3 linked regions of the Homo sapiens genome follow. The protein of the gene in region 1 interacts with the protein of each later gene in a pairwise test. Each region holds a gene or a part of one and is shown in the gene's direction. Other genes may lie near its edges.

Region 1 (11,212 bases):
TTTATTTATAATATATAATGAAGTCTGTCCTTAAAAAGCATACCAGTAATTGGAATTAAAAGGATATGAAAAATGTTGAAGGTTTATGCCATAGCACTTTTTTTTTTTTTTTGAGACGGAGTCTCGCTCTGTCGCCCAGGCCGGAGTGCAATGGTGCGATCTCGGCTCACTGCAAGCAAGCTCTGCCCCCTGAGTTCACGCCATTCTCCTGCCTCAGCCTCCCGAGTAGCTGGGACGACAGGTGCCTGCCACCACGCCCGGCTATTATTTTTTGTATTTTTAGTAGAGACGGGTTTCACTGTGTTAGCCAGCATGGTCTCGATCTCCTGACCTCGTGATCCGCCTGCCTCGGCCTCCCAAAGTGCTGGGATTACAGGTGTGAGCCACCGTGCCCGGTCACCATAGTACTTTTAAACTTGAAATGTCTATGTTTTTACCAACTATGTAGATCAGAGTTTCTCAGGCTTAATACTATTGACATTTTGGGCCAGATAATTCTTTGTTGTTGGGGGCTATCCTTTATATTATTTCAGTTACTAATGTGTTTATTTAGGATGTTTGGCAGCATTCCTGGCCTCTACACAGGGGATGCTAGTAGTGACTCTTCCCACCTCACACACAGTTGTGACAACCAAAAATGTTTTCACCACTAGTTAACAACCACTGATACATGAACGTTCAGTGTCTGTTAGTGAAAAAATATGTGACATAATTGTTACTTTCAGGGCTATTTACAATTTAGGTATTCAGAGCTTTATTTCTCTGGATATATTGTCTATAAATAGGGTGAAACTGTCACCAAATTAACAGTATTTCTTTATGGGGCCCAAATGACAAATTATATACTTTAATCTGGGATAGTCATGAAATGCCACTTTGTTTCTTATCCTTCTCTCTTCCCCCAAAATACATTTTTTACATTAAAATAACTGAGTCTGGGCCGGGTGTGGTGGCCCCCATGCTTGTAATCTGAGCACTTTGAGAGGCTGAGACAGGAAGATCACTTGAGGGCAGGAGTTCAAGACTGGCTCCCAATCTCTACAAAAAAACAAAAAATCAAAACAAAGTAACTGAATCTATAACTAAAATTATTAAACACAGTTGAAAAAAATGAAACATTAAGAAGATTTTAAGACAAACATCTGGGTAAATTAGAGATCATCTTCTCTAGGGCTTGTTTTTTTTAGTTTAATTCTAAACTTCTTGTATTTACTTAAAATGTTATTTTATAAATTTGCCCTTCTTTTTATTTGATCCCCAGTCACATAATATATTTATGCCTGATATCCTCGCTAATTTCACATTAGTGGATTTTGCTGTTACTATTTGAACCCTAGCTGCTGCCTTCCTCCTACTTCTGTGTTAGCTATTACTGCTCCTCCTCCTGACTGCTGTCATTTGTTGAGCATCTGTTGCACTAAGTGCTTTCTATATTCAGTAATCTTTTTTAACAACCCTCAACCCTGAAAGACAGTTAATCTGTTAGGTGCACTGTTACTTTATGGATTAGTTTATGATTTGGTTCATTAAGCCTTTATTAAGCAATTGCTAACCGCCAGGCATCTGGATACTTGACTAAGCAGCAGGTATAAAAGTTAAACGAAGTATAGTCCTTACAGTGTTTTAGAAGAGATTATAGTCTCATAGACTCGGGTAGGTTAAGCAAATTACTAGTCACACAGCTAATAAGAAACAGCTGAGGCCGGGCGCAGTGGCTCATGCCTGTAATCCCAGCATTTTGGGAGGCCAGGGTGGGCGGATCACGAGGTCAGGAGATCGAGACCATCCTGGCTAACACGGTGAAACCCCATCTCTACTAAAAATGCAAAAAATTAGCCGGGCGTGGTAGCGGGTGCCTGTAGTCCCAGCTCCTCGGGAGGCTGAGGTAGGAGAATGGCGTGAACCTGGGAGGCGGAGCTTGCAGTGAGCCGACATCACGCCACTGCACTCCAGCCTGGGCGACAGAGCGAGACTCCGTCTCAAAAAAAAAAAAAAAAAAAAAAAAAAAAACAGCTGAAACTGTAAGCCAAATTTATCAAAGACTTCTTGAGCATTGTGATATTGATATAAATTTAATAGTAGACCCCACTGATGCACAAGTTAAATTAGAAATACAGTATTTCTTTGCCTAGGAGATTTGTATATTTACTGAAAATATTACAGTTTAAAAAAATTCTCAGTAAAAGAAATTCAAATAGTGTAGAAAATTATGAAGAAAGGATATCTCCATGTAACTCTTCTGAATAATTATGTTATAGTCATTTTGCATATACAAGGGTCTTTGTGGCATTTATGTTTGTCTTTTTTTAAAACTAGACTTGCAACTTCTGTAATTTGATTATTTTACTTAAATCTTTTATTAACATTTTTGCCACTTTTTAAGTGAAACAATTTTGTTTAACATTAATGAATGTGTTTTGTTTGTTTTTTCTATTTGTATAGCTTTTTTATGCATTCCAAGATGATCGTTATCTCTACATGGTGATGGAATACATGCCTGGTGGAGATCTTGTAAACTTAATGAGCAACTATGATGTGCCTGAAAAATGGGCACGATTCTATACTGCAGAAGTAGTTCTTGCATTGGATGCAATCCATTCCATGGGTTTTATTCACAGGTAAAGATAAAAGTGCTTTAAATTTTCTCATTTGTTGAGGGAAATAGCTAAAAATAACTTTAACATTTCTTACTCTCAGTTCACCCATTCTTCTTCCGTATGACATAAGTGACCTTTCAGAACTCAAGACTCTGGCCAGGCGCTGCCTCACGCCTGTAATCCCAGAGCTTTGGGAGGCCGAGGCAGGCAGATCTCTTGAGCTCAGGAGTTTGACACCAGCCTGGACAACATGGTGAAACCCATCTCTACAAAAAAAAAAAAAAAAAACACAGGTGTGGTGGCATGCACCTGTGGTCCCAGCTCCTTGGGAGGCTAAGGTGGGAGGATCGCTTGAGCCTGGGAGCAGAGGTTTCAGTGAGCTGAGATCTAGTCACTGCACTTCAGACTGGGTGACAGAGTGAGATTCTATGTCAGGAAGGGGGGAAAAAAAGAACTCCAAACTTTGAAGTTTATAATTTTAGCATTTCAATTTAATGTTGATATAAATGTATTCTTTAATATCCCTTAATCTGATCATATAGCCTTTAAATGGTGTTCTGAAAAGTAAAACTTGTAAACTAGTTTTCTAAGGTATGTGCCAGGAGTTAAACACTTTGATGTTAATTTTTTAAATATGTAACTTAATTTGCTTTTAATTAGTGAATAGGTCGTATTTATTCATTAGACGAATAGTTTCATTTGTTGTACAAACACTGCTTGAATCCTGTGTGCAGTTGCTGTGCCTACATGTCAGGGATCAAAAATGAAAGTGACTTAGACCCTGCCGTGGGGTTTTTTTATGTACTTACCTATCTAATATGTTTCAATCACCTTTTATGTCTGAGTGTTGTATTTTTGATGGTCTGTCTCTCTCAAATGATTTGATTTTCCCTCTGAAAGAATGAAACTTTTAAAAAAGGAATATATATGTTTTCTTCTGAGGCATTAACATATAAAGAAGTTTCTTTGATGAAATTTAATTTATAGATGTGGATAGAGAACACATACAGATCAAAGATGGCCTTACCTAGATTGAGGATGCTTGACCTAAAATAACTGCCTCATATAATTTTTACAGTGTCTAATCTGTTTCAGAAAATACTGTACTATTTTTTCCCTCCTGCAGAGATGTGAAGCCTGATAACATGCTGCTGGATAAATCTGGACATTTGAAGTTAGCAGATTTTGGTACTTGTATGAAGATGAATAAGGTTAATTAACTAGATTTTAATTTAGTTTTTGCTAATTCAAGGTAGATGCTTCTTTAGAAAATGGTTTAAGAATTCTTTAGAAAATGGTGTAAGAATTTACTAACCATAGCTGGACTTGTCCAGAATTAATATGACCTTATTTGTTGAACTAGATACCATGGTTTCAATGTTGTATTAGTAACTTGTTAGTGATTTATTTTTTCCTCTCTATTTAGGGTAAATATGGATTGCCAGATTTACTAAATCCTTCATAACAACTCTAATATACACTACTGGTAACTAGGAATGGAATTAGCTTAAATGTCACTAAATACTTATGCCAGTGTTAAAATTAGACTTTCATAAAAATTGGATTCCAGTAATGTGTGTATTTTTTAGTGTTTTACTTCAGTTAACATATAAAAGATTTTACTGCTTATTTTAGGAGTGAGTCTTAAAAGATACCTATCCTCACTGTTTATATAATAAATAACATATACACAGCTGTATATGTATATACATATTATGTATATGTATATACATATACATTATGTATATGTATATACATATAATAAATAACATAAATAAATATGTTATTTATATAATAAATAACATATACACAGCTGAAGGAGCTGAAGGAGCTGTGTATATGTTATTCCTTCACTTCATATACACAGTGAAGGAAACACTGCATGAGAACTTCTGTATGAACATTTAGTTATAATGCTGTTTCATTAATACCAGCGAATATAGGTAACAGCTAACAAGTCTCTCAGGTTTGTTGGGGGAGGGCAGTTAAAATTCACATCAAATAGACATTCAGTGTGCTTTACACTATTATGCCCTTTTCCCATACATATGCTTCCCCAGTTTGTATTTGTACAGTCAGCTTTTGTATGTTTCTTTTGTAGTTTCAAACATAGTTAAATAGCTATTTTAGTAGAAAATAATGAAGTCAGTGTTTATACCAATATGTTGTAAAATGCCCTATCCTATGAACTCCCCAGTGTATTTGCACTGGCCTGTGTACTTGTTCTCAGCAGTTAAATGGTTTCATGATATTGGCACAACTTGGGGAATAATAAATGTGGCAGTATGTTTTTCTAGTGAGCATTATTACAAAATAATCACTGGTGTGTGTATATATGTGAATACACATATAATGTGTGTGTATATGCATTCACATGTATACACATACATACATTATATGGTATATATGTATATGGTGTGTATATAGTATGTATATATATGATTAAGCTGTGTTAATTTTTGTCAGGTTTCCATTCAGTTTTAATATATGATATTTTATAGCTCAAAGATTTGGAGTCCCATAGGTAATATTAATAAGAAAGTCATTTTAAATAATTGAGACTTTATATCCTAATTCAAAATTTGACCTGCCGCGCTTTTTAGGAAGGCATGGTACGATGTGATACAGCGGTTGGAACACCTGATTATATTTCCCCTGAAGTATTAAAATCCCAAGGTGGTGATGGTTATTATGGAAGAGAATGTGACTGGTGGTCGGTTGGGGTATTTTTATACGAAATGCTTGTAGGTGAGTAAGGAAGATTTTATGTCTCTCTATTACAGTTGTTCATCTCAAAACTTGCCACTTGGCTCTTTCTAATATATTTATTATATTAAGCAATCTTGATTTTATTTGTGGGTAATAAACATGATCCAAACCTGCTTCGTATGTGTTTTTAAAAGCATTTAGAGGCTTAGAGCAACTTTGTGATGTGTTCTTTTATATATTAGGTGTATGTTTTTAGTTTAATACATACCTAATAATCTTTTTAAACGGGTAACTTTGACTCTTCCTTTGAAACTGACTTTTTAAAAATGTATTTCATTTTGCTTTTGTTTTCTTTATCAATTTTTCAGGTGATACACCTTTTTATGCAGATTCTTTGGTTGGAACTTACAGTAAAATTATGAACCATAAAAATTCACTTACCTTTCCTGATGATAATGACATATCAAAAGAAGCAAAAAACCTTATTTGTGCCTTCCTTACTGACAGGTAAATAATTTTAAAACTGAGCCTGTATTAATTCTGAGGACTTCTCATCTTCTGCTCCATTTTTAAGGTCCATATCTGAGCTTCTACATGTAAATTGTTAGAATATAAATGACAGTGAAACCTGATGTAATTTTATGATATTCTAGATGTCTTTTGTAGATCTCAACTCACTTATCATACCTAAGAAATTGTGATAATAATACAGTCTTGGCTGATGGCTAAACTAGATGACTTTTTTCTTTTATTGTTCAATTTTTAACTTGGTTAATTATAAAAATTACTGTGTATTTTACTGAATCTAAAAAAATTTTTTAACATAACATCTCTGAAATTAGAGTACATCTCACAGTCAATGGTATGAGTTGGGAGCATCCTTTTTCATAGTGGTATAAAAACGGTGATACACCTTATACTTTAAACCATTTTAGATTTGATGATGTATGGTATATGGTTGTTGAAAGAGTCAATAGTATAAAGCCATTTTTAAAAGTATACTATCTTTTTTCTTCTAGACATAATAGTTGGTGTTCCATCTTGTAGATCCAACAAGCATTTTAATAATAATGTCTGTCTGCATTTTTGAAAGAAAAATGGCATATTATATATACCTTTGTGGTTTACTTTTGAAATTTGAAAGTGAACCAGATGTATTAGTAAGATTATATTTAATGTTTATGATTGTATATTGTTAAATATTAGGGAGACCTAGTACTTTTAAATATGTTTCAAGTTGAGATTTGCTTTAACTTGTCTCCCTTCATTATGTCCTTTAGAGCTTGAAGTATGGTTTTTCAAATGTTTACTTTTTTTTTTTTTTTTTTTTTTTAAATAGAGACAGGGTTTTGCTCTGTTGCCCAGGCTGGTTTCAAACTCCTGGGATCAAGTGATCCTCCCACTTCAGCTTCCCAAAGTGCTGGGATTACAGGCCTGAGCCACCCATGCCTGGCTAATTTTTACATTGATTGATTGATTGATTGAGACAGAGTCTCACTCTGTTGCCCAGGCTGGAGTGCAGTGGCATGATCTCGGCTCACTGCAACCTCCACCTCCCGGATTCAAGTGATTCTCCTGCCTCAGCCTCCCAAGTAGCTGTGACTACAGGTTCCTGTCACCATGCCTGGCTAATTTTTGTATTTTTGATAGAGAGGGTTTCACTATGTTGGCCAGGCTGGTCTTGAACTCCTGACCTCATGATCTGCCTGCGTTGGCCTCCCAAAGTGCTGGGATTACAGGTGTGAGCCACCGCACCTGGCCAATTTTTACATTTTAATATAAAGCATTGTATTATGCTGTTTATTAGGTGCTAGGGATATAGTAGTGAGGAAGATACAGAGCCACTTTTCTCAAATACCTCATAGTCCTTTGGGGGAATTAGATAAGCAAATCAGACATTTATAGTACACACAGCTAATTACCATGAGATAAGTACCATGTGCCGGAGAACCATGGAGAGGTTTTCTAATCCAGTTTGAGAGTTAGTGAAAGCTTCTTGGAAAAATTGTCACATGTCTAAGCCAACTTATCTTTTAGCTTATGCAAAAACTTAGAATTTAGAGTATTTTCTTTATTTATAAGCACTGTACTAGGGAAAAAAGGTGCTAACTTTCTTTTTCCAATTCAGCTAAAATCACATTTTTAAAAACTTTTTGCTCACCAAAAAAGAGGCTGGTATCAGTAACTTGTCCAGTGAAAGCTCTGAATTCTGTGGCAGTATCAAGAATTAGTAGTCATTGGCTTTTGAATGGTCAGAAATAATTAATAGATTATAAATTGGAAGTTCAAAATTTTAAATGTGTTTCTGGAGGTTTTTGGTAGCATCTGGTATTGCTGCCTAAGTAAAGTTTTGGTTGGGGAAAAAAAAGCCTAACTTTACCATTGTAAGAAAAAAATAACACACACACACAAAAAACTGTCAAGAAAATGCATGGTGCTTTATTCATTTTGCTAATGAAGTAAGGTGGTGATTAATCTGGATTTTTGTTGTCAGTAGAAAAGTCATGGGTGTTTTTTGTAGTTATTCTTTAGTTTTCTTTTTTTTGAGACGGAGTCTCGCTGTGTTTCATCCAGGCTGGAGTGCGGTGGCGCAATCTCAGCTCACTGTAGCCTCTGCCTCCCGGGTTCAAGCGATTCTCCTGTCTCAGCCTCCCAAGTAGCTGGGACTACAGGCGTGTTCCAGTACACCCGCTAGTTTTATATTTTTAGTAGAGATGGGGTTTCACAGTGTTGGCTGGGCTGGTCTCGAACTCCTGACCTCAGGTGATCCACCCCACCTGAGCCTCCCAAAGTGCTGGGATTATAGGCATGAGCCACCATGTCCAGCCTTTCTTTAGTTTTCTTTTAAAAAAATTCTTTAATGTTCTCAATCTTTAACATATTTTCTATTTGGGCTGATACTATGCTGACAATATAATTTCACCTTAGAACTATATTTGTCGTCCTACACTGATTTAATATCCTGCCCACAAATAAACCTGGACAGGTTATAATAAGATCTTAAATGATTGATTACTTTTCTCCTTCTGTCATTATTCAGGGAAGTGAGGTTAGGGCGAAATGGTGTAGAAGAAATCAAACGACATCTCTTCTTCAAAAATGACCAGTGGGCTTGGGAAACGCTCCGAGACAGTAAGTTTTTTTTTTTCTTTCATATTTTAGTGAATATTTGAAAGTAGTTGTGGTAGTTTGTTGAAACTACATTGCTAAATATTTGTGTGTATCTGATGAAAATCAGAAGCCACAAATACTATATGGGAATTGTCCTAACCTATTAATTTGATAATATTGGGCAGATTATATTGTTACTCCTCTTATGTCCCACGCAGGATACCCAGATGAAATATAAATGTAATGGATTTAGGCTCACCAGTCATAATTTTACATTTGATCTTTGTTGAATTGTTCATTTTAGGCGTTAGTTATCTTATTATGGAGGTGGTCAATAAGTAGTAAGTAATGAGATTAAAATATATGTTTTTGTGAGAAGACAAGTTATTCTCTTGTTTTTATTAAAACCCAAAATATAAGAAGGTTCTATTATTAATTCCAGAATTCAATTTAATTTTATTTATGAGTTTATAGGATATTGTGATATACTTGATTCCATCAGGCTTTTGCAGCTGGCAATTCAGAAACAAAAATGTATTGTATAAGAAACTAATTTTCAGTCAGTTTAGAACACTTTCTTACTTTTTAAAAAAAGTTAAAATTACAAGATGATTCACAGAAAACTCTACAACATAGCTGAATCAAAATTATCATGACACCAAAGGTTCTCATCATCTTCGTGGATTTGGGAGGTAAAGAATTCATCTTTCCCCTGCTGACATCTTAGGATTTTTTTCCCTGTTCATCTATCAGAGAAAGGATAATGTATCTCAGTCCCTAACTTGCTGCCTTAGCAATAGCAGTGAATAGTAACAATGGAAATGAACTCAGCTACCTTATTTTAGAAAGTTACACAGTAGTTATTTGTCTTAAGGACTGCCTATCTAGTTGAGACAGTGAAGGATAGTACTTTGCAGAGAGATGGAAATCTTGTTAATTCTGATGAAATAAATCATGTAGGTTTGCTAATATTAGTGAAGCATTCTAGTTATCAAATATTTTAAAAGAACAATTGTATTGCCTTCAAGTACTATAGCACAGTACTTACATTGTGCTGAGCTATAAAATTGTCTAAGGAGGAGAAAGGGAAAATAAATCCTCTGGAAATTAAGAAATTATACAACAAAGAACATCATTGAATGACCAGCTGTCTGAGAAGCTGTAAGAGCAGCTTGACTTTGGGAGAATTTTATTAGCAATTATATACTAGGAAATAAGGAACTTCCTCCTCTTCAGAATTAAATGTGACATAATTATTATCTTCATGCTGCAAGTGAAATTGTTGCATGACAAAGAGATGATCAGGGAGTGAGAAATGGTTACATCAAAACACTTTTTGTGTTTTTATTCAGGTTATTCTCTTAGTAAAGTTTAAGAAGGCTGAAGACGTACAAATATTATTATAAATCTGAATAAAACTTTGAAGGGGACTGAAGAAAATACAAAATAATATTTTGTATTGCTTTAAATTCTTTTTCAAAGTTAAGCAATGCATAAATAATTATAGAATAACCACACAATAAATCAACCGCAAAAGTAACAAGGATATTTTTCCTTTTATGTATTGAAAAACCGATCACTTGAAAGAGGAGGTAATTTAGTCAACAACTATTTACTGAACACCTGTTGTATATTGATCACTGTTCAATTTCAGACACTGGGAAAACAGCAGTGATCAAACCACCAAAAGTTTTCTTTCTCCCTTCTGGAGCTCATAGTCTTATGGAATTAGGGAGTCCAGATCAGTGGCATTTTATTATATTGCTGTACCTCCTTCATAAAACTACTTAAGATCTGCATTATCTATGGTTTTATTCTAGCGTGGTTAGATTTAGCATACTTAAAAGAATTTTGGTAGTTTTTCCTAATTCTAAGAGGTCCTGTTTTGTGGTTATTGGAAAAAACAAAGAAAAATTGAAATCTGTAGAACTTATTGTTCTTTGCTTCCCTTCCCCTCTTCCTACCCCTTCTTTACTTCCCACCCCTAAAATACCAAGAATTCTTTTATTCTGAACTGACCTCTTTGACCTGCTAAATTTTTAAAACTTATGTAACAGTTATAATTCCTTTTAATTTTTTTGGGTTTCCATTTTCCGTGGCAAAATTGCTTTCTAATACAAATAATAGTTTTTTTTGGTATTTTTACCACTTAACATGTCTCCACATTGCAATGGCAATTAATCTTCACCTTGTGTTCCTTGGTAATGTGGGAGCAGGATACAAAATAGCTTGATTTTTGGCAGAATTTCCATGAGCTTCCTGATCTTGTTCACAAAGTATGAAGATTTTAACACTATTTTTCCACTCATTTGAGATAAAATTGAAGGAGTAACATGAGTAAGATCAAAGATAGGAGAAGGACAAAAGAAATGAAAAGACCTAAATAACTTACTACAGGTCATAACTGCAAGCAAACAACAATGTCAAAATTCAGATCTAAGTCTCTTAACTCCAAAGCCTTTGATCTTTGAAGTACCATGTACGATTTAAAGATCGTTACCTGTTCAGTGTTATATAGATCAAAAATGGAAGGAATTGACAATTGTTGGCAGTTAAATTTGGGGGAAAAAAAATAACATTTATTACATATTTAGCATACATTATTAATAATACTGTTATATTTAGTATTTAACATAGTATTAATAATTTCAAATGAAATAAATGGCAAAGGATTTTGCTAGTTACCACATATTTAACATATTAATATTAATAATGAATAGGGCCAGGTGGCTCTATTGTACAGTGTTCTACAGTATTATACAGTGGCTCATGCTTGTCATCTCAGCACTTTGGGA
Region 2 (11,212 bases), on another chromosome or scaffold:
GAGATCAGCTGGTTTCCACTGAAGAAGTATTTGCCTTCCTGGGCCACCATGGGGAAGAGTCTGATTAAGATTCACACCAGAGTCCGGGTCCAGCTCCGGCTGACTAATCACTGCTTTCGGCCCCTAAGTGTGCGCATCCTGAGGATGGGGCCCCGGCTCCAGGGTAGGGTCCTGACTGCTGTGACCCCCGGGCAAGGGAATCAGCTGGAGCATTTCCAAGGTAAAAAAGGCTCTCCTGTTTTGCTGTGCCAGTTAGCGCAGATCCTTCCCACGGCACCCATCCCATCTATCCCAAAATAACAGGTTCGATGAAATGGCAGGACAGGTGGTGGCTTTTACAGCAGTGAAAACAGTTTCTAATATAGGACTAACCTGATGTGGGAGGGTCACCTTACAGGTGAGATCTTCTGTTAAGGGAGGAGACCAACTGATATTTACTGAGCAACTGTATTTGTCAGGCATTCTACTAGAAATGCACATCTAATTGGATGTGGTGGCTCATGCCTGTAATCCCAGCACTTTGGGAGGCTGAGATGGGCAGATCACTTGAGGTCAGGAGCTCAGACCAGCCTGGCCAACATGGCGAAACCCCATCTCTACTAAAAATACAAAAATTAGCCGGGCATGGTGGTGGGCGCCTGTAATCCCAGCTACTCGCAGGGCTGAGGTGGGAGAATCACTTGAACCCGGGGGTCGGAGGCTGCAGTGAGCCGAGATTGCACCATTGCACTCCAGCCTGGGCAATGAGATGGAGTGAGATTCCATCTCAAAAAAAAAAAAAAAAAAGAAAAGAAAAAAAAAAAGAAATGCCTATCTATCCATTATCTTGTTTAATGAGAGCACCAACAGCTCCCAGTATGATGTGGCTCCAGGTGGTCCTCTGACATTTTCCTCTTCTGATGTCACAGCATCTGCCTCTCCTTCCCCACAAGCTGAGGGGTGTAATCGTAGGTTAAGCTAAGCTTTTCATACTTTGAAAGATCCTGCAGTCAGAGCTGTCTTCATGAAGGGGCAGGCCTTTGAAAGGGTGGCAGGCGCCCTATGCAATGGGGCTGAGGACTGCCTGGGAAAGGAGCCAAGCAAGCAATATGCTGCAACCAGGGCCTTAAGGTTTCTGCTTTATCAGTGACCCATAACCTGTCCCAAGGTACATATTCCTCAAGCTGCATGTGCAAATGGGGACATCAGGGAGGAATACTGTGGAAGAGAGATCAGAGGAACAGCAAGAGCTCTAGAACAAGGGACAGAGACTCTTAATTTCAGGTTATTTCAAAACAGTTTCTCGAGCAATTAAGACCTAAATCTAAGGTAGATGCTGGCTGTTGATTTAATCCGTCCTGGCCCATGGTTCCATTCCATGGAATCCGACTACAGTTAAGTCATCACTTAACAGCGTTGACAGGGTCTTTAGAAACTGCAACTTTAAGCAAAATGATGTACAATTAAACTTTTTTTTTTCTCATCAACATTATAACAAAATGGGGCTGGGCGTGGTGGCTCACATCTGTAATCCCAGCACAAAAACCTGTCTCTACAAAAAATACGAAAATTAGCTAGGCGTGGTGGCACATGCCTGTAGTCCCAGCTACTCAGGAGGCTGAGGTGGGAGGATCACCTGAGCCTGGGAGGTCGAGGCTGCAGTGAGCCGTGATTGTACCACTGCACTCCAGTCTAGGCAATGGAGTAAGACTGTCTCAAAAAACTAAAGAACTTTAAAAAAATTATAACAAAATGATGCTGAAGAAAACATTGGAGGACCTGCTGTAACATCATTTGGCTTAAAGTCATGGTTTCCAGGAACCTGTTGACAACATGAGGACTTAATAGATATGATCAGCAGGATCATGAACTAGAAAGCGGCTTGGATTCTATCCTTGGTTTTGCCATTAACTGCCAACCACATGACTTCAGATAACCTCTTGCCCTCACTACCTTGTGGAGTTACTGAAAGATAAAATCAAAGTGCTTTAAAAAGATGAAAGCATTATACAAATTTAAGATTTTAGCACAGGGACAAAAAATACAGCTAAGACTATGAGGAGCTTCTGAAAGCAGAGATTGAGAGCTGTGGCAAATATATGAGCCGTGACGCAATGGGGAGCGTAACTAGATGGCAGGTGCCCTGCCTTTGCCCCCACCCTCTCTCCCCATTGTCCTACTCATTCATAACCCAGATTCCAGGGCTCATTCCTCTGGAGAATCCTTAACTGTGCCTGTGCCAAGACAGGCTCCACAAGGCTGGTCAGGCAGGCTGCCTGGGTGCAAACGGCCAAGCCATGAGGGAGCCAAGGAAGATGGGACACACTGCTTCTGAAAGGTTACTAACACCTTTTTAAGAGAGACCTTTGGACTGCTTCATGTCCTGGAAGAAGGGGAAAAAAGAGACCCTTTGGGCTTCTGGAGCTAGCCCTGAACCAAAAAACTCCCTAATCAACCTGACTTAGGTAAAACCTTTACTGAGCTGGGAATCTGGTTCAGTCTGGGATTGTCAGGGACTATTTCAGGGCAACAGAAGGGGACTGGCTTTTCTTGTCATAGGTCACAAAGGCAGAGAGAACCACACCAGCATCACCAAGATGGCCAGGAGTGGAAAATGCAGACATTGAGCCTAAAACAAGAAGCCATTTCCTTGGGAGCACTGTGATGGGGGCCGCGCTCACTCACTATATGCCCAAAGCCTCTGGCCTGGGTGGCTGCTGTTCAGTTGAGAGTGTAACCAGCTCCTGTTTTCCCTGCCAGGGCTTGAGTCCTGTGAGAACCTTGGGAAGAGAGAAGAGATAATGGGTAGTTTTAGGGGATAGAATACCCCTTCCTCCTACCAAATGTAAGAGAAATCCACCCCCGCAACAAGATCTTCTCAAACTGTTTTGTGCTCTGAAGTGTCTAAAGATAGGGGAGCTTTTCAGCCTATTCTAGACCCAGCTCCTTCTCAGAGGAAAAGAGAGGGAGCTGGCCAGGGACTACTCCCATGCCCCCTCAAGAAGAGCAGAGAGAGTTTCTACCCCATCATTCCACAAAGTCAGAACAGCTAGAACGGAGGCTGAAGAGACTGAGAGCAGCTGCAGAAATCCAAAAATATTGACCTTATAAGCTCAAGATGCTGTATGCTGGGTTTTTACAAGGATATTCGGTATTTGATGAAACCCAGTTAGGCATGACATATTCCCCTTCTCCCCATTCCTACCTCTCTTTTATTAAAAATTTTATAGTTACAGTGTCTATGTTGCCCAGCCTGGTCTTGAACCCTTTGGCTCAAGTGATCCACCTGCCTTGGCCTCCCAAAGTGCTGGGATTACAGATGGGAGCCATCGTGTCTGGCCCATTCCTGCCTCTTAAAGCCCTCCACCCAACAGGCAGACTTGAGACTCAAACCGTGGTCCCAGCTCTGCATCAGGGGTAGTTTGGAATTCAGATTCTTTCAAACTGGGGTAAAAACCAGGCCCAGAGTTCAGAGTTCAACAACAAGCTTCCAAGATGCCGCCCAAAGGAAAAAGTGGTTCTGGAAAAGCGGGGAAAGGGGGTGCAGCCTCTGGGAGTGACAGTGCTGACAAGAAGGCTCAAGGTCCCAAAGGTGGTGGCAATGCAGTAAAGGTCAGACACATTCTATGGGAAAAACATGGCAAAATCATGGAAGCCATGGAAAAGTTAAAGTCTGGGATGAGATTCAATGAAGTGGCCACACAATATAGTGAAGATAAAGCCAGGCAAGGGGGCGTCTTGGGTTGGATGACCAGAGGGTCCATGGTGGGACCATTTCAAGAAGCAGCATTTGCCTTGCCTATAAGTGTGATGGATAAGCCTGTGTTTACAGACCCAGCAGTTAAGACAAAATTTGGATATCATATTATTATGGTTGAAGGAAGAAAATAAAATCATATGAAAGACTGAAAGAAAAAAAAAAAAAAAAAAAAAAACTAGGCCCAGGACACCAAAGGCAAGAAAGGCAGAATCTTTAACAAATTAGGGGCTGGGTGCGGTGGCTCACACCTATAATCCCAGCACTTTGGGAGGCCAGGAGTTCTAGACCAGCCTGGCCAAAATGGCAAAACCCCGTCTCTACTCAAAATAAAAAAATTAGCTGGGTGTGGTGGCAGACACCTGTATTCCCAGCTACTCAGAAGGCTGAGACACAAGAATCGCTGGAACCCGGGAGGCAGAAGTTGTAGTGAGCTGAGATTGCACCACTGCATTCCAACCTGGGCGACAGAGTAAGACTCCATCTCAAAACACACACAAACTAGGCCAAAACCGTAAGCAAAAAGCAAAGAAAAACTCTTCTAAAATGGCCACTGTGATTTCTGTGCCTTCTCTTGTTTCATACATACATATATATATATATATATATATATATATATTTTTTTTTTTTTTTTGAGACAGTCTTTCTCTGTTGCTCAGGTTGGAATGCAGTGGTGTGATCTTGGTTTACTGCAGCTTTGACCTCCCAGGCTCAAGCAATCTGCCCCCCTACAAAGTAGCTGGGACAACAGGCATGCACTACCACACCTGGCTTCCTCCTCGCCCCGAGGCAGAGTCTTGCTCTGTCACCCAGGCTGGAGTGCAGTGGCACGATCTCTGCTAACTATAACCTCTGCCTCCCAAGTTCAAGCAGTTCTCCTGCCTCCCCTCCTGAGTAGCTGGGATTACAGATGCCCGCCACCACACGTGGCTGATTTTTGTATTTTTAGTACAGACGGGGTTTCACCATGTTGGCCAGGCTGGTCTCGAACTCCTTACCTCATGATCCGCCCGCCTTGGCCTCCCAAAGTGCTGGGATTACAGGCATGAGGCACCACGCCCAGCCTTTTTCTTTTTTTTAAGATGGAATCTTACTCACTCTGTTGCCGAGGATGGAGTGTAATAGTGCGATCTCAGCTCACTGCAACCTCCGCCTCCCGGGTTCAAGCGATTCTCCTGCCTCAGCCCACCAAGTAACTGGGATTACAGGCATGTGCCACCAGGCCCGGCTGATTTTTGTATTTTTAGTTGAGATGGGGTTTCACCACGTTGGCCAGGCTGGTCTGGAACTCCTGACCTCAAGCGATCCACCCATCTCGGCCTCCCAAAGTGCTGAGATGACAGGTGTAAGCCACCATACCCGGCCTGTCGTCTTCTCGATATATCAAAATAGAGTGCAGTGGCTACTGCTGCTGGTCATGTGGGTGTGCAGAATGGTACCCAATAAAACACAATGGGTGCTACTGGAAAGCAAAGGGTGCATTGGGACACAGCCTACTCATGTTCCTTTTGCCTTTCTAGGCCTAGAGTCCTTACGGGACAGTGCCCATTCCACACCAGTGCGTTCCACTTCCCATGGGGACACCTTCCTGCCTCACGTGAGAAGCAGCCGGACAGATAGCAATGAGCGAGTAGCTGTGATTGCAGACGAGGCCTACAGCCCTGCAGACAGCGTGCTGCCCACCCCTGTGGCTGAGCACAGCCTGGAGCTGATGTTGCTTTCCCGGCAGATCAATGGAGCCACCTGCAGCATTGAGGAGGAGAAGGAATCTGAAGCCAGCACCCCAACTGCTACAGAGGTGGAGGCCCTTGGGGGAGAGCTGAGGGCCCTGTGTCAGGGGCACAGCGGGCCCGAGGAGGAACAGGTGAATAAGTTTGTTCTAAGTGTCCTCCGTTTGCTCCTTGTGACCATGGGACTCCTCTTTGTTTTGCTCCTCCTCCTGATCATCCTTACCGAGTCTGACCTTGACATTGCCTTTTTCCGTGATATCCGCCAGACCCCCGAGTTTGAACAATTCCACTATCAATACTTTTGTCCCCTCAGGCGATGGTTTGCCTGCAAAATCCGCTCAGTGGTGAGCCTGCTCATTGACACCTGAGAAGGCATGACTCCTCCCAAAAACTAGCCAGGTGGACCAAGGAACCCGGCTACCCATTCCCAGCAATGGGACCCATCGCGGAACCATCGGCACATATACCAAGTCCTCCTCTCATGACTCAAAGTCCACTGCAGCCTAGGAGGGTGTTTCCCAGAAGAAGAAAGGGATAGGCTCATGCCCTGTCTAAACAAACTGGGAAAACTCATTTTCTTCAGAAGTTATTTCAAGAAAGGCTCAGCGACTCTGTTTCTCATCTTTCCAATTTGCAGGATAATTTTTGGTTTTGAATTTTGATTTTTCATAGATGTATATTATTTTGAAGTATCAAATAAAAATAATTTATTTTACTATTACTGATTATTGCAGTAGTATCACCTAGCAGAGGGGACACTAGTTGAAAACTAGAGAGCTGCTGTCCTCTGTATTCTGCAGGAGCTTTTCCTGCTGGTGCCACTGGGTTCCAGTAGACTCATCACTGCAGCCTCAGCAGGGCAGGCCAGGGATCTGGACAATGGGGACTGTTTAGTTTTTTGTTTGTTTTTTTTGCCAGCCAGAACTTTTAAAAAAGTAAACATCCATGTAGAATGATTAAATGGAAAGTTGCTTCTTATGATGGTCTGAGTTGGATTTTCTTTTCCTTTTGTTTTTTCAAATCTGAGCAGAGTGGGCATCTGAAGGGACCACCGCTACAGCAACAGCAGCATCAGGGGTGGGGTAAGTCTGTCCCCTTAGTCTAGAGCCTAGTGGGCATCACCATAGTTTTGTATAATGAAACTAGACTTAACGTGATTTTTTTTTTCCGAAGAACCTCAAGACTTTTATAGTGCTCCAGGGGCGTTAAACGAATTCAGTGGTACCAGAGATAGATAGTTCTGTCAGAAATGTTGGACAAAGTGTAGTTAAGAGAAAGCAGAGTTAAGTTACCTGAGAGACTGTTGAGATTTGGATAGCAGTGCTTATTTTATATACACCCCCTTGACCCAAAGACTATTTCAATTTATATTTTAACAACGAAATGTTATTTTCTTAACAATTCATATTTTGTTTTTACTTTATGGATTAAGAAAATAGAGCCTGATGAACTAAACGATGCAAGAAAGAAACTGATCCTGAGAATGAAAAGCTTCAGAAAATAGAATTCCAAGATCAACAGCCTTAGAAGGGACCAGGAAAAGAATCTTTTAAAATAGATTTCTAAGAGATGCCTACAAAACACAGAATGTGACCGTGGCAGAGACCAACACTTAGATGTAGAAATGCTGCCCCCTAGGGTCATCCTCTGCATAAGTTCTAGGAAAGCATCACCATCCTTGCAGAGGGAAGTCCTCGAAGCACGCAGCACAGGCATATGAAGGGCGAGTGTGGGATCCTAGGCCCAAGCTCTTCAACTCTAAAACCAATCACACACAAGATCCTGTTTTCATCTCAGGGAGAGATTTCTAAGTCATCTGGGGCTTGAGGGCTTATTTAAGGGTGGTCAATGGACATATTCCTGGACCCACACAAAAGTAGAGCAGCTGCTGATACCCTAATTGGACAGCCCCAAACGCAGAACAGAACAAGTCACTTGTAGACTTGACCTCCCCTATTTTGTCCCCCGAGATGGTAGAACCATGTCCATGTTTACAATATGACAACTGTGGAATAATTGGGGTTCTTAGGGAGAGATTTGCATAATTTTAAAGACATCCTTTCATCTGGACCAGAGGTCAATCAACTTATGTCAAGTGCTACACAGTAAATATTTTGGTTTAGCACGCCATACTGTGTCACAACTGCTCAATTCTGCCATCACAGCACAAAAACAGCCACAGATAATTTGTAAATGAAGGAACATGGCTGTGTTCCAATAAAACTTTATGAAAACAGTGAGCTGAATTTAGCCTACAGGCCATAATACGCCAATCCTGCTCTAGACAATAAAACTGATCCTTACCAGTATGTTAGCAGAAGAGGGTCAGTCAGCTCTGTTTCCATGCCTGACATGTATCAAAGATCTGGGACCTCTTCCCAGTGGAGGCACTAGGGTTGCTTGTTTAAAGGGTGCTTGAACAACTAACCAGCAAAGAGATGTCTGATGCCAAATGGGCAAGATCAAATACTGGAATGCTAAAACACAGCTGGAATCTAAGAAGGGAAGAGGGCTTCTCTGACCATTTTCATACCAGCAACAATTTAGGCAGAATTATAAACATCTATTTATCGAGTGACAATACAAACCGAAGGAGATCCTAGTAGAGATTAGGGGTCAGTTAAAATCAACTAGCCACTGCCACTTGTCATCTACATAGCAAAGGCTTTATTTAGCACAGGACTAACGTGAAAAGTAGACCCAGAGATGAAAAGGCTGTCAGGAGACAGGGGGCTGGTGTCCACCTGGTATCTACTGTCTTATGCAACATAGAAGATTACCTTTTAGTGTAGTGCTCCTACCTCAGTTTGTAGAATCTGGTGTTTCTATGCAGTGAGTGATAGCCTCAACTCTGACCTTTCATATTCACATTAGAGACAGATGCAGTATTCCATATCCTAGTATGTTCCTTGTGTCTAGAGTTCTAACAGTACAGTAGTCTATGCCATTTCTAACAGCTAAATTTTGCTCTGTAAACAGAAACTTTAGGGTTGTTTTTTTCCAGGGCTCATCCCAGAAAATATGGATAGAAAAGTTTCCTTCAGTTTGCTTTTCAAATAGTGCTTGAATAATAAACCTCCTTTGATTGGTGACTAGTCTTTTTTGGTATATCTCCACCTTTAAAAATTGTTCAAGTTTTTAACCTGGTTATACTGTGTTCTAACATGTCTCTCATTTTCTCTCAAAATTAGTTTATCTCATTGTAGAAAAAGCAATGGTTTTCATAGCTTCATCTATCAGGAAATAAAACTCTTACTAAAGAATAGCATACTGCATCTTTAAGCAGTAGAGGGTAAACTACCTGCAAATGTGAATTTCTTAGATACATTTAAAAATATATAGTTGTTAACCTTCTGTGTGCCAAAAACTCTTAAGTTACATTTTCCTTCAAAGCAATGTACTTTTTTCTACATATGCAGTATGTAGTTAGCATAAAATCATTGGTGCCATGAAGATTATTTTTAAACTTAAATAAATATTTAAATATCATGGAAGAGTGGGCTCTTTCTTTAATAATAGCCTGTCTTACTTTTCCTCCCTTAAAGTTACTAACACATAGATAAAAGGATACTGGTGGGATTTACACAGCTGACTACTATTCACTTGGATCATATAACATAATTATTTTGCTTGTATCCACCTATTATCCTTGTCCTTACCCCCAGATAAATACTGTTAGAAACTGAGAAGCGGCCAGGCACAGTGGCTCACGCCTGTAATCCCAGCCCTTTGGGAGGCCAAGTCGGGAGGATCACGAGGTCAGGAGTTCAAGACCAGCCCGACCAACGTGGTGAAACCCCCGTCTCTACTAAAAATACAAAAATTAGCCAGGTGTGGTGGCGGGCGCCTATAATTCCAGCTACTCAGGAGGCTAAGGTAGGAGAATCGCTTGAACCTGGGAGGCGGAGGTTGCAGTGAGCTGAGATCACACCACTACACTCCAGCCTGGGTGACAGAGCAAGACTCCACATCAAAAAAAAAAAAAAAAAAAAAAACTGAGAAGCTATATATGTAATAATTTTAAAGTGAATTGGGTATTTTTCTGATGAGGAAAACCAAGAAGACTAAGTGATTTTCCCAAGATTACATAGTGGTAGAGTCCAAACTAGAACCCAGATTGTCCACCTTCTGGTCTGCTGTTCTTACTCAAGCCTGGAGTAAGTGGGAGCACAGAAAATACTTTCTAAGAAGGAACTACAATGATACCACCACCACATATTTACAAAATATATCCCTATAGCATTATCTCATCTGATTATGTAACCATCACTCTGTGGCTACGGAATTGGAAATGGTCTTCTAAATTCCATGAGGATAAGAGGTGATAATGGGGGCTTGGTCCACTGTGCTAGCTTCTTACCTAATCTTTGTCTTTTCAATTCTGCCTGCCCTCCACTCTCCCATTTCTGTTGCCAGATCATCCTCCTAAACACCAATCAGGCTATGTTACCTCCAAATTTCAGAGGTACCCACTACCTAAAAAATGCTATCTAGCACCCTATCCCCAGCGGAATTTTTTGTTTTTATGACATAAGATTTTGCTTGAAGTGATCCAAAGAGTAAAAAGCACAAGAAACACTGGACCTGGGTGGCTTCCCGTGGCCCTGCCGATTCACAGCAGCCTCCCTTCTGCTGACAGCTTATCAAGAACTACCTGTGCACACACCCCTGTAGGACTCTAGTCCCTACTCCCTCTGCTTTGGGTTCCTCTAGCACAATCTAGCTCCTCTGCACCTGAACACACTTTTGGTTTTAGCTCATGAACAGGCTTCCTCTTCAGACCCCTACGACCTGCTGATGGAATGGAGTAAAACAAGCAAAGCACCCTTTTAATAAATTTCCTCTTGCCCAGTTTCCATTTTGGGGAAAATGTATCATAAAATGTTTTGTTCTTCAGCTCCGTGTAAGTGTACTAAATGTTATCTTCCTCATAAATTCTACCTTTTCATTTGAAAATCCAAGTATTTACAGCCAAATAAGTCAAAATACAATCTGCTGTCTTGTTATTTCTAGCCATCAACACCCTACTAAAAAGCAGGGGGAAATGTACTAAGTCAGAAAGGACCGCCCAATAGGACATTGAAGTTTTTGGAATCTGAAGTTAGAGGGCATATATTTCCTCTTCTCAGATTGATTCAGAAGGCATGTGTGTCTTCTCCCCCACCCTACCCCATGTACTGTACATTAGCTGAAAGGATTTAAATCCTTGTATCCATAGCCCTAAGGCTCCCTGTTTTCCTGGAGAACTCCCCTTGCAAAATCTTCTTGGTGGAAAGGAAGCTCAAAGACCAGAATACTAAAATAGGACTTAAGCAACTCAGATTCTATTAATTCCTAATCATTTGTGGTCTCTCCTAGTCTGACAAAGTCTCTGACAACCAAAAATGAGAATTGTCTGCTCCTTCCTTAAAAGTTACATAACAAAAGCCTGGGTATCTTAAAAAAAAAAAAAAAAAAAAACTCAAGCGGAATTCAGAGCTTAAGAGATATCATAAAGGCCAAACTTACAGAAAAGGCTTATCCCGAAGGAGGCAATCATAATACACACATAATTACAGAAGCCACACAGCTGTAGGCAAGTCTGTGGGAGAAGTACCTTTCACTACAGATTACAGTGTAAGAATGTCCCAAGGGAGACAATTTTCTTTTATGTGCTGTCTAGATTTAAACAATTACTCCATTAGAAAGCTTATCACCAATAAAAAAAAAAAAAAGTCCCTACTCATTCTCCTTCCTTCCTGCACTG
Region 3 (11,212 bases), on another chromosome or scaffold:
ATTTTTTGTACTCTTAGTAGAGATGGGGTTTCACCGTGTTAGCTAGGAAGGTCTCTTATCTCTTGACCTCGTGATCCACCCGCCTCCGCCTCCCAAAGTGCTGGGATTACAGGCGTGAGCCACCGCGCCCGGCCCAGCCTTAGGATATTTTTAATTGTAGGTTTTAATAAGTATTGCATGTCGAATGCAACTTTTATTTTGGAGAACGTATGCAAATGTATTCCTGTTTCTTGTTGCTGTTGCATAAATCTTAAAAGACTTTAAAGACTGCATTTTCGTATTGATTCCTAAAACAAAACTTAACAAGCAAGGGGGAAAAAACTCTATGAGGGTAGACAAGAGACCTATTTGATATAATAGATAATAGTGTATGGAGGAATAAAGCAGGAGGAGGAGTAAAGCTTAAACAGCAGTATGGGTAAAATTAAACAGGATACACGTTACATTTATGAATAAAAATTTGTTAGTTGTAATACAATGATAATAGTTGATAGTACTCATGAAGTAATTATTTTTGTCATTTAAAAGAGTCTAGAAAGCATATAATTAGGCTACATACAGATGTCTGAGAATTCAGATGCACCTTTTTCTCTTCAAATAGATGTCATTCTTTTATGCTATACTGATAAACCCACACCACAACCATTTCTGGTGACATCTTGGGCAACACAGTATAATGGTTAAGAGCTGGGCTGTGGGCTCAGATGGTTTGGGATCCACCAAGATTGCTACCCCTTATTAGCTGCATATACTTAGACAATTTACTTACCTTACTATTCTTTGATTTTCTCATTTGTACTTATCCCTTTTTGTATTTGTAAGTATTTAATGTGGTGCTTAGCACATAGTAAGAATAAATATAATTATTTTTTTTTATTTTTTTGGGACAGAGTCTCGCTCTGTTGCCCAAGCTGGAGTGCAGTGGCTCGATCTTGGCTCACTGCAACCTCCGCCTCCCGAGTTCAAGTGATTCTCCTGCCTCAGCCTCCCGAGTAGCTGGGACATAGGCAGGTGCCACCACGCCCAGCTAATTTTTTTATTTTTAGTGGAGATGGGGTTTCACCGTGTTAGCCAGGATGGTCTCGATCTCCTGACCTCATGATCCGCCTACCTCAGCCTCCCAAAGTGCTGGGATTACAGGCGTGAGCCACCGTGCCTGGCCAAATATAATTATTTCAAATTCAGTGTTTAGCAACTTATTTTCAGACCATGATTGTTGTATCAAATATATTGTTTTTCTTTCAATGCTCTGACTTTTAAGATTTTCTGCATTCTTCAATGCGACTTTTTTCTGTTTAATTTTTCATACTTTATTCCTTGTATCAATAGATTAAGAAAGTTAAAGTTTCCCAAGTGTTGATTTATAATGTTTGTGTCATACAAAAAGTTCAGTTTCACAAAGAGTAACATTCAGTGATCTATTTAAATGTAATTTTAATCCTTATTTTAAGGTAAGGGCTTTACAATAAGCTAAATACACACAAACCTGTATATCCTGAACTGCAAAAGCAGATTCCATAGCCATATATGTTTTAATCAAGTACACATTTCCACAGTGAACAAGTACTTAGAAATATGTTAATAGAATACTATCCCAAATGCTTATCCTGTCATCAACTTTTAAAACTGTTCTTGCTACTGAAAGCATTTATTCTGAGAAGATTTAATCTGATATGGGAAAATGAATTCTCCTAAAACTTAACAGATAGTATTTTATAAGCCTCAGAAGGTTTTAAATCAAAAATGCCTTCCAACAAGCATTCACGTGAAACTTTTAGTTTCTTGAAAAATAATCACTCTTGTTATAAGAAGAAAAGAATATTAAGACAAATTTTCTTTTAAGACAGATACAAATTCTTACAAAGAACCGTATTTTTCTATATCATCTCCTTAGAAGGATCACAAACCAGTTCACTACCTTTAATAACCTTTCAGTTTACTGTTGTCCAAAAACTTTAGGATACATGAAGCATGTCTTAGTTATCATAAAGTCAAATATATCTTTTAGATCTTGCATAATAAATAGCTACAGTATAGCTTACAATGGCACAAATATAGCTAACATATAAATACTACTTCATCCTTTAGATAGTCAAAAGTCAGAAGGAAATAAATGGTTTACAAGGTACTTTAACTTATTATGTGTGATCATTGAAACCCAAGAAGTATTTCAAGTATGCTTATTATGTAAAGACAGGCGATTAAAGGCTCAAAGATCACCGTAAAATTGAAGGCATGAAAATAAAAACTGAAAACTTTGTGTTTCTCCATCTTTCAGTTACATGGCTTGATATCTATCAGGACCTTACTATAGAAAATATACAGTTAATATATGTACTTCCCCCAGACGATAATGAAGTTTCAGAAAGTACAAAAGGTGTCAAGATCCATAGTTTACTTCGTCAAATGGTTTTCCAGTTCATTTCAGTTCTGCATTCATAGTAATCAAGTCTTTAACCCTAGCAAACTTCCTTAGGTCCCTTCAAATCAAGAAAACAATATTGTAAACTTGTACTCAACCTCATCTTCCAATTCACATTGCCTTGTGAGTCATTTCAATGATGAACTCTATGACAGGGTCTTCAAGAATATCCCCTGCTCAGTACAAGGATTCTGGCATCCCCTAAACCACATGGCATACATCACAGGTGAGATCTCACTAGCTTGCCAACCTGCAGTGCCCTGCTGGCTCACTCCTAACAGGTTTTTCTCAATGTGATTTTATTAAATCTTGTTATCAACATAATTTTCAGAGGAACCCCTAATTAATTTTATCATTGAGGAATAGGAAAATAACAGCTATACAAAAACGGATTCTTGAGGATCCATTTCTCAAGAATGCAATTATATTTAAATCTAAGAATACCTGTATACATTTAAGAAAAATTATACCTATTGTATTTCAAAAGATTCATCCATCTCACAAATATCTTGGGAGCCCCATACATATGCTGGTACTGTTCTAGGTGTTGAGGATCTTGCGGAGAACAGACTTCCTGCTGTCATTGAGCCTACTTTCAGAGGATGTGGGGAGCAGGTATGGTCTGAAACACATATGATTTTTATAGTAGAATTATAAAAATATTAATGCAAATTATGTTGTTTTCACAGTCAGATATAATTACTGGTGCTCAAGAAGTGGAAATGATGACAAAACAGTTAGGAGCCCATCTGGAACAACTAAAAATGACCATAAAATCAAAGATAGCGGTCCCAACATCACAAGTCTTTGTAAGTATTTGTCATAAACTTTGACCTTAAGGTGAATTTCCTTTTGAGCCCTATAATATTGGATCGCAAGTCATTATAATTATATTTAATTTCTAAAAATATAATGTTTTGTATAAATTGATCCTGTTCTTTATGGTTACTTTGCCGTAATAGTGTGCTATAAGTTGGATGAGAGAATTCCCCCACATAAGCAACTGCTACTAAAGGAACTGCAACTGTATAGTATGATAACCATATCAGTATTGGCTGTGACAACAGAAATAATCATTGTACTGTGGTTGAAAATGTATTCATAGTAGCTGGTCAGAAATTGCCTCCAGTACAGAGATGATGTAACTTGTGACCTTTCTGAAAAGACAGATAATAATCACTTTGTTTACCAGGCCTGCACTTACATTGAGTTTCTGATTATCTGCACCATTTTATGGACAAACCTGGCAAACCTTATCTGGATAAGGAGGTATAAAATGTATGTGCAGTATTATTTTTATTTATTTATTTATTTACTTCAAGACGGAGTCTCGCTTTGTCGCCCAGGCTGGAGTGCAGTGGTGCAATCTCGGCTCACTGCAAGCTCCGCCTCCTGGGTTCACGCCATTCTCCTAGCTCAGCCTCCCGAGTAGCTGGGACTACAGGCGCCCGCCACCATGCCCAGCTAATTTTTTTTGCATTTTTAGTAGGGACAGGATTTCACTGTGTTAGCCAGGATGGTCTTGATCTCCTGACCTCGTGATCTGCCCGCCTCGGCCTCCCAAAGTTCTGGGATTACAGGCATGAGCCACTGCGCCCAGCCTATATGTAGTATTATTATAGAGGATATGAGGCTGTAATAACTTTCTGCAGTCATCCCCAGTATTTGGTTTAAAAACCAAGAAACAAAAGGCTAAATTGTTTAACTTAGATGTGGGGCCTTATTGATTTTTTCATTTGTTCTATAAGTCAGTGACCTTTAATAGGAATAAGAAACATATCTCACTGGCCTCAAATATTTAACTTGCAGCTCACAAAACATGGCCCAAGATATATCTCTATACTTTCCAGGTTCTTTTGCAATGATTTGGCCAGAAAAAATCTAATTATAGTGAGTCATATTTAGCTTTTTAATTTATTTTTTACTTTCTTAATATTGTTATATTTTATTAGATGATCAGTCAGGAAAACAAACAAAAAATGGTCTTCAGTGACACTTTTGTGTTCATTCTCCTCTAAACACATCTTCAGCATCTGATTTTTGGTACTTATGAAGGTGTTTTTTTCTGTATAAATAGGTGTTAACTTGGTGTCCTTGCAGGGTGCGTGGGGGGAACTTTCTATTTTGCCACCTTGCTCCACCCTCCTTTTTTTTTTTTTTTTTTTTTTGAGAAGTAGTTTTGCTCTTTTTGCCCAGGCTGGAGTGCAATGGCCTGATCTCAACTCACTGCAACCTCCGCCTCCCGGGTTCAAGCGATTCTCCTGCCTCAGCCTCCCGGGTAGCTGGGATTGTAGGTGCCCACCACCACGCCTGGCTAATTTTTGTATTTTTAGTAGAGACGGGGTTTTGCCATGTTGGCCAGGCTGGTCTTGAACTCCTGCCCTCAGGTGATCCGCCCACCTTGGCCTCCCAAAATGCTGGGATTACAGGTGTGAGCTACTGTGCCTGGCCGTATTTTTTTTTTTTTCTTAAGACATTTTTCCCTTGGTTTTTTGAGGTGAAGAGTCCATAAATCTTTCTTAGGTGATCACATGTGTTTGGCTTTTTAAAGTAAACTAACTTTATAATAATCGTACTAAAATAAAATGCTTTGAAATAAAATGCAAGTTTATTTTCTCATAATTTATGAGTTAAATGTCTATCTAAAGTCTACTGTCTAAGTTCGTAAGACTTTTGCTTAGGGAGAATTAACTTCTTTACAAATGACAATTGTATTTATCTTAAAGAGTACAGTGATTTATAATTTTATTACACAGTTGCATTTTGAATATTTTTTTTCTCTTCCTCAGCCTATCTTCATTGCACTTTCTACTCTGTGGACCAGCTTGCAAGACGAAACTATTGTGGTTGGTGTCCTCAGTAATTTATTCACTCACATTCAGCCATTCTTGGGTGCTCACGAACTATACTTTCCTGAGAGAGTGATGCAATGTCATCTTAATGGAGCGACTGTGAAAACTGATGTGTGTAGAATGAAAGAACACATGGGTAATGAAAATCATCCATTATTTCCTCTTCTTTTTAAAATTACCTCTAGAATAAAGTCACTCTTTTGTTCTAAAAATTTCATATCTTTCTGATAAAGCATTAAACATTTTTCTTGATTATAAAGTACTAATGAGGGCCGGGTGTGGTGGCTCACGCCTGTAATCCCAGCACTTTGGGGGGCCGAGGCGGGTGGATCACCTGAGGCCAGGAGTTCGACATGGCAAAACTCCGTCTCTACTAAAAATACAAAAATTAGCCGGGCATGGTGGTGGGCGCCTGTAATCCCAGCTACTGGGGAGGCTAAGGCAGGAGAATCACTTGAACCTAGCGGGTCAGAGGTTGCAGTGAGCCAAGATTGTGCCATTGCACTCTAGCCTGGGTGACAGAGTGAGACTCCATCTCAAAAAGAAAAAAAAAAAAAAAGCACTAATGTTTATGAGAGGAGATGTGGAAAACAGAAAAAATGTAAACTGAATAACTTACTGTCCAGCAATAACCATTCGTAGTGTTATCGTTCATGTTTTGGTTAACAATCATTTTTTGTGCAGATGTGTTTCTATTGCAGTCCTAGTAATTTTATTATTGATTTGTTGGAGAAAAGAATATTAATCATTGCTATTTTGTTGCAAATAAAGCTCCATTTCTTTAGAATGTTATTTGTTATATATCTACCTCAGATTCAAGTTGGGAATTTACAAACCAATAAATGTTATCCCTGTAAAATTAATTGAGCTTATTTAGGTCCTTTAGAAGATGCATTGATTCTTACAGAAAAACAATCTTTATCAATAAACTTTTAACCATTTTAGACCCTTCTATCTTAGCTAAAGATACTTTAACATTTATGAGGAATGCCAAAAAAGAGCTTGGGACTTGAGATGTTGATGTTGCATAAAAAGAGAGTTTTTTCAGAAACTGAAATTAATAATTTACTCTATGAATTTTCTTTTCAAATTCTATTTTTTAAAGATGAAAAATAAAAATATAGCAGTCATTTCCCAAACTATTAGAATTCATAAAAACTGAAAACTAAACCAGAAACTAAAAAATATCCTTTCAGTTCAAGTTTTTTATTGCTCATTTCATTTCATTAAAGCAGCATATGTAAGCAAATATTAAATGAAATTGAAAAGTTAAAGTATCTCCAACAGTGTATATTAAGCTAACCATATTGGCAAGACTGTTTACCTGCAACTTCTTAGATTTAGATGTGTCATTTTCTACCATACGTCAGAACTTTTTATTCACTAGAACACTATTAAATTACCACTCCATTGAATTGGTCAAGCCAGTGTTGTTCTAAAAGAATTTCATTTACACCTGCCACATATTGTCATTGTTAGAGGCTTTCAGGCATATCAGGAAAAAAGAGAGAGGATTTATTTTCTCTAAATTATGCATTTACTTTTAGTGGTAGCCACAAGATCGTTTGTGGTGCCTGCTTTTTGGGTTTAGAACCAGGCACAGAAGTGTACGTGAGATTGTGAAAGCTAAGAAACTTCAGGAACAATGTTTTATAAATACGTGGTATTATTTGTGTAAAAATTTATTCAGTTTGCTTATCAAATGTAAATAGGTAAGCTAACCAACATAGGAAGAATTTTTAAAAATATAAAGAACAAAAATTACACACCTTGTTATCAAAATCAGGTAACATTTTCTTGACTTTCTGCTCAGAACCTTCTCTGTTGTTTCAAGAAGCAATAGTCCTAGTTTATAAGCATCATATTAAACATATTTTGCCACCTAGCATATTATTAAGAACAACACTATATTGAATGAGGTCAATATATCTCTTTCTGGGTCACATAGCAGCCAGTCTATTCTGCTCAACTCCTTGGGTTATTTACTCTGCAGCAGCAGGAAGCACCACACACTTTCGGAAGTGCCCCAGTCAGCTTTTCTCTCAGCAGCAGAGCATGCTTGTCAGAAATGGCCTCTCCTTTCTGTTCTTCATTCTGGAGCAAAATCCTACCTCCAAGTTTGCCCCAGAAACTTACGTGACGTTATATGTCACTGAGGTCATTTGTACTTCTTTGCTTGAATAGACTTCCTCATAAATCTGGTTTTGTGAATATCAAGTTTTTGCCCATCGGGAAAAGTACAAAGCAATAAAAAGGTAATGTTTAGAATGAGCTACTGCTGATTTATTTTGGAAATTTAACCTTCTCACTGAATTAAAGCTTTTCTTCTTCTCCTTCATTTTAGAAGATAGAGTAAATGTGGCAGATTTCAGAAAACTAGAATGGCTTTTCCCAGAAACAACAGCAAATTTTGATAAACTGTTAATTCAATATCGGGGATTTTGTGCTTACACGTTTGCTGCAACAGATGGTCTTCTCCTTCCAGGTATATCATTGGAAATGAGACTGCTCTCCTTTCCCCGATTTTTTCTTTATATGGAGTTCTGTCATTGTCACTTGAATATTCACTTTAAAAACTTTATGGAATCTAATGGTGAACTAACAAAGGATCTACAAAGATGATCCAGACAAAGTCTTCATTTTGGAGGTGCTCTGGTAGACTGACATAAGCAAGAAATTATAAGTGATTAGTAATGGAAAGTGTATATGTGTTATGAAATATGGATGCTGCAGTACCATTGAAAGGGGATGACTCATATGGCCAATGAAGAATTCTAGAAATGTTACACGACATTGGCTGCATGCAGTGGCTCACGCCTATAATTCCAGCACTTTGGGAGGTCAGGGCGGGTGGATCACTTGAGGTCAGGAGTTGGAGATCAGCCTGGCCAACATGTCGAAACCCTGTCTTTACTAAAAATACAAAAATTAGCCAGGCATGGTGGCACACGCCTGTAGTCCCAGCTACTTGGGAGGCTGAGGCAGGAGAATCACTTGAACCCGGGAGGCAGAGATTGCAGCGAGCTGAGATAACTCCACTGCACTTCAGCTGGGCAACAAAGTGAGACTGTCTCAAAAATAAAACAAAAGAAATGTTACACAACATTACTAAAAATATATCTTCCAAAGTAATTACTGAAAGAGCAACACTTATTTGACATGTTTGTTAAAAAATATTCTTTGTTACTTTGCAGTTATATTTCACTGGCATAGATAGGATTTCTCTGTTAGACGCCTATAAGGAAATGGCTAATATCAAGTAAAATTTCTCTATGATGTATATATTATTAGAGCTTCTCCAAAATAAAGAATAAATCAGAGATAGAGATGAAAGAAATTATCATCCAAAAAGTGCTGTGTGAATTGTGAATAAGAAAAAGCCTGCCAGGGCTAGAATGAAAACAGTGTGACAAGATTGTGTCTTAATTTACTTTACGCCATTAACCTTATTTTTCTTCTTTCTTCATTATTTTTTTCTTTATTTCTTTTGTTATGTTTCACAATTGGGTATTTTTTCATTAAAAATAACTATTGGGATTGTGGGTATACAGGCTAGAGAGAACACACAATTGGCTCATTTAAAAAATGTTATTACATTTTTGATAATGGGAATAACAAAATATTTACTGTGGGAAGTTGAAAGTAATATTCTGAGGCCCAGTGAGGGTCACTGATACTGGGGAGAAAACAATCAAGAGCCATGCAGAAGTAAAATGCAATGGAATGTAGATAGTTTCCTTTTCTTTCTCCTCCCTCCCTCTCTCCCTCCCCTCCTGCCTCCCCCTCTCCATTCCTTCCTTCCTTCCCTGTTTCACACAAATAAGAAGGGAAAGGAGAAACACGGATGTGGGGTGATGGCAGAGGAAGCAATGATATGGTTGGAAAAGCTATGGGCTAGGGTTCAGAAGAGCCTGGTCTGTGTCCTTAGTGAACTAGGTAACCTTTATGAAATCTCACACCTTCTGTGGACCTCAGTTTCTCCTCAAGAAAATGAAAAGGATCAACCAGGAGGTCTGTATGGTCCCTTCCAGGGTCTCCCAACTCTGGGTCTAAGAAGAAAGAGGGTGAAGTAGAAAAGTAGAAGAGCTTTTGGGGCCATGAGTTTCATATTCCTCTCTGGATAAGTGAATTCTGACGATTTCTGCTTACTACATTATTTCTACTTCATTATTTTCTGGGCAGCAGCAACCTGCATTACCTCAGATGAATTCTGTAGAACTTCCCTTCTTCCATTCAGGAGTGGAGACCACATGCCTTAAATCCCAGGGTAACACTGGCACTTACCAGTCAGAATCCTTTTCCGATGACTTCATTGACTTCATTGCCTACCACGCTTTGCCTCGTTTGCTCCACTTCAGTGGCACTGGCTTTCTTGCTGTTGTTGAACAGTTGAAGCCCACTTTCACCTCAGAGCCTTTGCACTCTTGGAAAAACTCTGCCTCCCAGGTTGCTAATCGCCTTGCTGCCTCATTTTATTCAGCCTTCCCTAATCACTCAATTTAAAATATCAATTGCACACTTCTTCCTTTTACTATGTATTTAACCTGCTTTATTATTTTTTTCATGTAGCACATGTCACTCTGTGACCTATGATATATTTGTGATTTTTTGAGAGCAGGGAATTTGTTATCTTCTATAGCCTTAGCACCATGAACATGGTCAATAACTATTTGTTGGATAAATGAAAGAATAAATGAGTAAGACAGTGTTGCTCTTTCTAATACAACTTCCACAAACTATGTGGATATTTAATTATCTATAGTCTATGTAGTATCTTTTTACAGTGAAAAATATTTGCTAATATGCAAATTTGAGTTTTGGAAAAGATGTCCCATTTTTGTAGTTCTTACTGGGTTATTTTAAACATAGTCCTTGCAGTAGTTAGTTGAAGTAGCTTTGAAAAATCTACCAGATGAGTAAGTGGCTTTTCATAAAAGATTTTTACAATTATTATATCTGGATAGTGGAAAGTATTTTTACATAAAATACAGTTTAAAATCATACTTTAACATAAAAATATAATTAGTATGTATTTCACATATCATTTAAAAATGTATAAATTAAAATGATAATTATAACATTTTAGCAAAATAAAAGCATAACTGATATGTTAAAAATGGAGTGGAAGGGGCTGGGCGTGGTGGCTCATGCTTGTAATCCCAGCACTTTGGGAGGCCAAGGTGGGTGGATCACCTGAGGTCAGGAGTTCAAGACCAGCCTGACCAATTTGATGAAACCCCGTCTCTATTAAAAATACAAAAATTAGCTGGGTGTGGTGGTGCACACCTGTAATCCCAGCTACTCAGGAGGCTGAGACAGGAGAACTGCTTGAATCCAGGAGGCAGAGGTTGTAGTGAGCTGAGATCACACCACTGGACTCCAGCCTGGGTGACAGAGCAAGACTTCGTCTCAAAAAAAAAAGGAGTGGAAGGGCCAGGAACAGTGGCTCATGCCTGTAATCCCAGCACTTCGGGAGGCCGAAGTGAGCAGATCGCTTGAGTCCACGAGTTCGAGACCAGCCTGGGTGATGTGGTGAAACCCCATCTCTACAAAAAAGGTTAGCTAGGTTGGGAGACACATGCCTGTAGTCCCAGCTACCTGGGAGGGTAAGGCAGGAGGATCTCTTGAGCCCGGGATGTTGATGCTGCAGTGAGCTGAGACTGCGCCACTGCACTCCAGCCAGGTTGATAAGACGCAGTCTTATCAACTTATCTTTTGAGACACAGTCTCAAAAAAAAAAAAAAATGGAGTGGATGAGGAATGGCTCTATGGTATGTTACAAACACAGAGTAACAATATTTCTTTTTCTTTTTCTTTTTTTTTTTTTTTGAGACAGTCTTGCTCTGTCACTTAGGCTAGAGTGCAATGGCACGATCTCAGCTCACTGCAACCTCCGCCTCCCAGGTTCAAGCTATTCTCCTACCTCAGCCCCCTGAGT

The links.
Region 2: the proteins of ROCK1 (region 1) and FRMD5 interact in binary tests that used the Homo sapiens proteins (3 or more experiments, as listed by UniProt).
Region 3: the proteins of ROCK1 (region 1) and CFAP206 interact in binary tests that used the Homo sapiens proteins (3 or more experiments, as listed by UniProt).

The regions. Positions count from the first base shown.
Region 1 is NC_000018.10:21,036,698-21,047,909, reverse strand, and holds part of ROCK1 (rho-associated protein kinase 1), read left to right. Parts: intron 1-2,442; coding exon 2,443-2,618; intron 2,619-3,723; coding exon 3,724-3,808; intron 3,809-5,200; coding exon 5,201-5,345; intron 5,346-5,674; coding exon 5,675-5,813; intron 5,814-8,346; coding exon 8,347-8,438; intron 8,439-11,212. UniProt on the Homo sapiens protein: Protein kinase which is a key regulator of the actin cytoskeleton and cell polarity.
Region 2 is NC_000015.10:43,868,507-43,879,718, reverse strand, and holds the end of FRMD5 (FERM domain-containing protein 5), read left to right. Parts: intron 1-1,547; exon of another isoform or gene 1,548-3,913; intron 3,914-5,256; coding exon 5,257-5,834; 3' UTR 5,835-6,496; coding exon of another isoform or gene 6,497-6,571; 3' UTR 6,572-6,898; coding exon of another isoform or gene 6,899-6,912; 3' UTR 6,913-8,955; downstream 8,956-11,212. UniProt on the Homo sapiens protein: May be involved in regulation of cell migration. May regulate cell-matrix interactions via its interaction with ITGB5 and modifying ITGB5 cytoplasmic tail interactions such as with FERMT2 and TLN1.
Region 3 is NC_000006.12:87,423,415-87,434,626, forward strand, and holds part of CFAP206 (cilia- and flagella-associated protein 206), read left to right. Parts: intron 1-2,025; exon of another isoform or gene 2,026-2,642; intron 2,643-3,111; coding exon 3,112-3,231; intron 3,232-5,211; coding exon 5,212-5,410; intron 5,411-7,618; coding exon 7,619-7,759; intron 7,760-11,212. UniProt on the Homo sapiens protein: Essential for sperm motility and is involved in the regulation of the beating frequency of motile cilia on the epithelial cells of the respiratory tract. Required for the establishment of radial spokes in sperm flagella.